Regions from separate parts of the Homo sapiens genome. Here region 1 is reported to be linked to region 2. Evidence: microRNA targets listed by miRTarBase, many of them from high-throughput screens and not tested one by one. Region 2 holds a microRNA gene; the other region holds the end of a gene's coding sequence.

Region 1 (3,351 bases), not on the chromosome of region 2:
AGAGGATTCTCTGCGGGCCAAGGAAAGCTGCTACTGAGCTCCAGCTGACTGTTGGCCCGTGCTGTCTGATCTTATTTTCAGAGGCTAGCAATCTTTGTGTAATCGCCCGATATTTAAATGGTTAGCAACTAATTTGGGGAAAAAAAAAAACCCAAACCCAACCCAACGAGTATGAAAGTATGTCTGGGGGCTGGCAGTAAGATTTAGGTTGTCTTTGTCCCAGCCCTGTGACATAGTTCAGCCTGTACTTAAAAATCCTGGGATGGTGGGGACATAAGTTCTACAAAATAAATCAACAAAAATACCAAATGATAAAAAACAAAATTTTTTTTAAAAATCCTGGAATGGGGCCGGGCACAGTGGCTCATACCTGTAATCCCAGCACTTTGGGAGGTGGAGGTGGGTGGATCACCTGAGGTCAGGAGACCAGCCTGGCCAACATGGCGAAACCCTGTCTCCACTAAAAGTACAAAACTTAGCCAGGCGTGGTGGTGTGCACCTGTAATCCCAGCTACTTGGGAGGTTGAGGCAGGAGAATTGCTTGAACCTGAGGTGGAGGTTGCAGTGAGCCGAGATCTCACCACTGCACTCTAGCCTGGGCAATAAGAGCGAAACTCTGTCTCAAAAAATCAATCAATCAATCAATCCTGGGATGGGGAACTCTTTACTTTCCAAGCCAGCCCCTTATATGAAATGAAGAACTGCCATGTCTCAGTCCCAGGTGTTAATTAGGCACCTGCTACATAACATGCATTTCCTACTAGGTGATTTAGGCAGTGGTGCAGATGGAATGAAACAGGATGAACCTGGTTCTGGGTAAAGCAGGTTGGATCCTAAGTGTTTCCTTGGTGTCAGGCTCTTTAGGCCTGATGACATATAGTCTGGGTTGCTTATTTGCACTGAGTAACCATTCTTCCAAATGCTGTCACTACCAGAAGATTCCTAGTCTATAAATTGTCAATACCCAATAACCTGGCTAAGTATGCCCCCAGGTTGTCTTCTTTTAGGCAGAACCCTCTTGCATCATTAGCTCTAGGTTGATCATTTTCAGCCTAGAGAGTTCCGGGAAGGCAGATCTGCCAGGGCCTCAGAAACTTTGGGAAGTGAGACTCATGATCACCGAATTACTCTTGCCCCGCTTTGTTCCTGGCCAAGAAAAGTCTACTATACTGGGAAATTACAGAGACCCTAGGTGTTGTCCTCCCAGACACAAATTTCTAGCTCATGGAATGAAGGTGTTGGGGGCGCTCTGCTGGGGGTTGAAGGTACCGATGCTCTGGATCTTGTAGTAAGCCCCTCTTTCAGATATCAGAATGAATCTGCCCAAAGCAAAGGTTTTCACATCTGAGAAAAGCAGATGTGCAAAGACTCCCACACAATTGCTGTCTCCCTAGTCCACAGAGCACAGCTTGGAGAGGACAGGCAGGATGAACAGTGATTACAAAAGAAAACACAAAACCAGAATTTATTGAAAGTAGGTACCAGCTCTGATTAGAACAATCAGCTCAAAGATACCATTACTCAGAACAATATATACAAAAATCTCAGGGAAAGGAGAATAAAAGAACTTAAAAGAATACAACTTGAACAGGACTGTTTTACTAAAATGGTCTTGTTGCAAAATAATAACAAATACCACAGAGAGCCCTACATGAGAAAGCCATGTGCCTTCAAGCCTGGGGATGAGGACTCTAGTTCTCAAATTCTTAGAACATAGCACATGATTCTCCAGGGCAGAGAGGCTGGCTGGAGAATGAGGACCTCACTGCTGACTCTGCTTAACAAAGTCCATGCCCCAGGCACAGGCACACATGGAATGAGGCCACCAAGCAAGTCACACCCACCCCTGTTCCCATGAACCCCATAAGAGAGAAGTGCTCTCTGAAGTCTACAGACTTGGCAGGGACCACTGGACCATGGATAGCTTAGAGACAGTTATTCTGTGGCCAATGACATAAAACCTCCAGAATCTGGGCCCTACAGTTCCCTTATCCAAATTTCCACTAACTAGGGAGGTAGAAGAGCAAGACATGGAAGTTGTCTCCAAACCAGTATTTGGTCTTCAGTAAACAGGGATAAACATAAAACACTGCTCCACAAGCAGACTTCAGAACTACTGGGCACAGCAGGTGAAAGATCCCTAAGTCCCACTGACCACCTCCCACAGGAGGAGGAGGAGGAGGAAGAGGAGGGCTGGTAGGGGGAGGTGTCATGAGTGCGAGAGGGTAGACGGACATGTTCCCTACTGAGGTCACTGCTGCCAACTGTCCTGCTCTGCTGATCTGTACAGTTCCCCCCACCTTCTGGACCTACCCTCTCATGGCCCAGAGCTCACTTATCTGAGCCTAAACCTCCCGGTCTCAAGCATAGAGAGCAGAAATGCCAGATGCAGAGGTTCTCTGGGTAGCGGTGGTGGAGGCAGTCTTCCTGAGAACACAGGGTTCTTCTTCGCCCCCTCAACTGCAGGCAGGGCAGGGTGAAGAGGATGTTGAGTTGCAGGAGGCAAAAGGCAGCAGCTCAGAGAGCAGGGAGGATTCAGCTGGGAGACTGATGGGAAGCTTCCATGGCATGGCCCCAGCAAGCAGTGACTGGGATCAGCTGGGATGGGAGGGTGAACAGACAGCTCTACCTAACTGGTGTGGGACTAGCACGTCTGAATTCCTGAATTCCCTTAGAGGAACATGGCTCCTTGCTCTGGAACTTCACACTCAAACAATAAGCCTGAAGGGAAGAAGTCTCTTCAGGGTCCCAGAAGTGCCCATTAAAAGTCCATCCTGTCAACTTTGGTGTCTCATTTGTGGGTCCGTATGCTGCTGCAGATTTGGGCGAGACGGTTCTAAAAAGAAAAGGAGAGAGGTCATTGTAGAAGATGTCACTTGGCAGGCTTGCCCCTTGGCCTCCCACAGTCAGCCTGAGCCCCTCCATTCTCTATCTGTATCACACATGAATTCACCTTTCTGAACCTGTTTCTCATCTGAACAAGGGAGTAAAATAACAACTCAAGTGAGACAGTAAAGGTATCATAGATTTGAGAAGAACATTGCAATAGATCTAGCTAGAGGATGACAGTCACAAGATTTGGGTGGCTAGGTGTGTGTGGGATCTCAGCACTGGGCCTATGTTCAGAAAGACAGGTTTAGGAAACCAGCCCCGCCTTGTCCCCTTCCTTGGATGTACCCTTCAGACCCCACAGAAGGATGAGGGTAAGGTTGCCATGTTTACACTAAGTGCTTCATCCACCACCCAAGATGATGGCTGACCAGACCAAGGAGGTTCATCCCTGGCGGAGCCATTACATTCTTCAGTTAAATTAAATTGATAATTTACTTTATTTTTAGAGCTGAGGTCTTT
Region 2 (3,391 bases):
CTACCGCACCTAGCCTCCACCTGGCAGTTTAAACAGAAACTGAGGAGCCTGGGACAGGGTCAGGACCTCCCTTTGGCTTCCACGTAGCAGCAGTGGCCTTCTCCCGACCTCAAACAGCCCCACCCCAGCCACCTGCTTGCTGTGCCCCTTGGGCCAGAGCCCCTGGGTAAGGAGAGGAGAGCAAGTTAGATGGATGTCTCTGAGGTGTGGGGTGTCTGCTCCCCTCAAAGATGCCTGCTTACCAGGCAGGAGCCTTTGCACCCCAGGCAGTGTGCAGCCTGGAGAATGGAGGGAAGCCATCCCCTGGTGAATGCCTAGGGGCCAGTCTCCAGGCCTGGCTGCGCTTGCACCTCTGCTTCTCACCAGTTTGGTGACCTTTGGCTGTTTCCTTAAGCTCTGTGAGAGCTCTGTGATGGTGTCATCACTGGAAGAGGGACAGCCCCCAGCCACTGCTTTTCCTGTCCCAACTCCCGAACACCTTCCCGTGCAGAGAAGCCTTCTGTATGGAGGCTTCCATACAGAAGCCTCCATGTGGGACAGGCTGAGCATATGTCTGACATGTCCCAAAATCTAGGATGGCAAGACAGTGTGGGCAGACCAGGTGTGTAACTACTGAGACTATAGATTAGACCTTGCCAAACATTGGAAAATCTAGACCGGAGAGAAAACGGGTGGGGGGGCAGCATGCTGTGAAGGCAGACACTGGGGGGATGCCAGTTCCCACTTCCCAGCTCCGAGACCTGGACAGGTCCCTGAACCAAGCCCATCGCACCCACCTGTGAAGGGGCTGCTCCTGCAGGGCCAGTTGAGCGTGAAGACCGAATCAGACCAAGTACACACACAGCTCCAAGACAGCGGCTGATCCGCCCTGGCCTCCCGGAATAGGGAATGGGACCCATTCCCAGCACAGGCCGTTACTTAGTGAGAGTAAAGAGATGCGAATGAAGAGCTAAGTGAATGAGTGAGCCAAAGATGGCCTTCTCTGTCCTCCAGGAGCCCCACCCTGGTGAAGAACATGATCTCTGGCCTCAGCTATGGAGCACTTAATGCCAGCTACCAGGTGACCTGCCCAGAGCCCACCCACTCACCTCTACCTCCCGCCCCCTTGCTTTCTCATACAAGAGACCCCCATCCTCCCCTGCAGAGGACTCACCAGAGGAGGGAAGGAGGGTGAAGACCCAAACTCTCCGAGACCCCACCTCTCTGCCCCACCCCAACTCGGGGCCAGCCTCCACCTCTGCTTTCAAGGCTGGGTTCAGACAAGGCAGGCAGCTGGGAGGATGGCATACCTATAGCATCCCCTTTCCTGGTTTGTCAGTCTGGGGGTTCTCTGTTCCCTGGGAGAGGGGATAAGCCAGGCCCAGGTTCCAGGAAAGCTAGGAGGTAGGAGGTCGGGGGGTCAGAGTTCCAGCCATGGGGGAGGGGTGCTACATTCAAAGGCTGAGTTGGGGCTTGGGGGTTGCCCAGACAGATCCGCCCGTGGGGCCAGTAGGCAGACACACAGGCAGCTCTCTAGTGGGCGGGGAAGGCACAGCACTTGACTGAGTGTGCCCCATCCTGTGGAGCCACTGACGAGGCCCAACCCTGTGCCCCTGCAGGCCGCCCTGGCCGAGAGCAGCTTCCCCCTCCTCAACAGCCCTGGCATGCTGAACCCTGGCTCCGCCAGCAGCCTGCTGCCCCTCAGCCACGATGACGTGGGTGCCCCCGTGGAGCCGCTGCCCAGCAACGGCAGCAGCAGCCCTCCTCGCCTCTCCCCGCCCCAGTACAGGTGAGCACACAGCACGGACCCCCACCCACCCCAGCACCCCTCAACCACCAGGGAGGAGGCGTCATCCCCCACCCTGGGTGGGGTTCCCCATCCCACCCCCACCACGCCTCTCCCCAGGACAAGTGGCTTCTCTCTTCCTTCCCTCAGCCCTCTCAGCCCTCCCTTGTCCCACCTGCCTGTTCTTATCCCCTCTCCCCACCTCCCCACCTTCCCACCTTCTCCTCCCCATTTTCCCCCTTTCTTATTTTTCCTCCTCCTCTCTTCTCTTTTTTTTTTTTTTTTTTAAGACGGAGTCTCGCTCTGTCACCCAGGCTGGAGTGTAATGGCAAGATCTTGGCTCACTGCAACCTCTGCCTCCTGGGTTCAAGTGATTCTCCTGCCTCAGCCTCCCAAGTAGCTGGAATTATAGGTGCCTGCCACCATGCCCAGCTAATTATTTTGTATTTAGTAGAGAATGGGGTTTCACCGTGCTGGCCAGGCTGGTCTCGACCTCCTGATTTCAGGTGATCCACTGGCCTCGCCCTCCCAAAATGCTGGGATTACATGTGTGAGCCACCTCGCCTGGCCTCTCTTCTATCTTTCTTCTCCTTCCTCCGTTCGCTCATCTCCCCTCTGCTCCCCTCTTCTCTCCTCCCCAACCCAGAGCAGTCTCTGCCCCAGGACCAGCTTTTCTTTGAAGAGAGCCCTAGGGGAGATCAGCCCTCAGGTCTGATGGGATCCTGGGGAGGGGGCTGTGGGCACCCCACTGTGCCCCAGAGTTCTGGGTGAGTTTGGGGGGCAGGGGGCAGAGGGCATCAGAGGACAGCCGCCTGGTGCCCATGCCATACTTTTGCCTCAGCCACCAGGTGCAGGTGAAGGAGGAGCCAGCAGAGGCAGAGGAAGACAGGCAGCCCGGGCCTCCCCTGGGCGCCCCTAACCCCAGCGCCTCGGGGCCTCCGGAAGACAGGGACCTGGAGGAGGAGCTGCCGGGAGAAGAACTGTCCTAAGGGCCTGTAGTGACCGGCAGGGCTGGGGTGAGACCCCTCCCTTCCAGAATCCAGGCCCCATCTCCCCCAACTCCACAGCCCCTCCCGAGCCTCAAGGCAAGTCCAGGACTCAGACCGGGGAGGCCCGGGCCAGCAGCTCCCAGTGTGACCTGACAAAAACACGTAGGGGCAGGGACGGTCCCCACCCCCAGGGACACAACCCCTGGTCTTGGACCAGTAGAGGACACGGAGGGTTCAGACCCCTCCTCAGACCCTCCCCACATCTGAAACTGCCTCCCCCCAACCACCAGCAGCAGCAGGGCCCTCCTCCCCCACCAGCTCTCCCCACAGGGCCCCTCAGCATCATGGAGACCCGCAGGCGGGGCTTAGCCACCCCTCAAACCCAGGGCCCCCTGGCACCTGGCTCTGGCCGTGTTTTCTGGCCAGAGGCCCCCACTTTCCTAACTCGTGCTCCCTTCCGCCTTCTTTTCCGTACTGTGAAGAAAGAACTCTCCACCCCAGCTCCCACCCTGCCCTGGCCTGGGTGGAGGAACTGTGCCTCCATCCCCAGAAGAAACAGCCCCCTCTGCTGCTGGGGTGGGACTGTCTGTGTGCCCTGTGGGGGTCCGTGTGAGCAGGCCCACCTGGCTCCAGACCC

The links. Region 2 holds the annotated microRNA hsa-miR-4641 (UGCCCAUGCCAUACUUUUGCCUCA, at 2,582-2,605, shown strand). A microRNA usually pairs through its seed, bases 2 to 8, with sites in the 3' UTR of a target mRNA and lowers its output. Matches are read on the target gene's strand: a 7mer-m8 pairs with bases 2 to 8, a 7mer-A1 pairs with bases 2 to 7 and ends in A, and an 8mer does both.
Region 1: the mRNA of CDCA8 is a reported target of hsa-miR-4641. Seed matches in the 3' UTR shown: 7mer-A1 at 2,756-2,762.

What each region holds. Positions count from the first base shown.
Region 1 is chr1:37,707,807-37,711,157 of GRCh38, reverse strand. CDCA8 (cell division cycle associated 8) reads right to left here. Exons shown (of 10, transcript NM_001256875.2): 10 at 1,439-2,836. The coding sequence ends at 2,792. Among named protein-coding and RNA genes, the nearest start is that of CDCA8, 17 kb to the right of the region's middle.
Region 2 is chr6:41,596,183-41,599,573 of GRCh38, forward strand. MIR4641 (microRNA 4641) reads left to right here and starts at 2,541; the gene lies at 2,541-2,606. FOXP4 (forkhead box P4) reads left to right here. Exons shown (of 17, transcript NM_001012426.2): 15 at 994-1,060; 16 at 1,599-1,768; 17 at 2,607-3,391. The coding sequence ends at 2,754. RefSeq lists enhancers at 2,058-2,642, 2,643-3,226.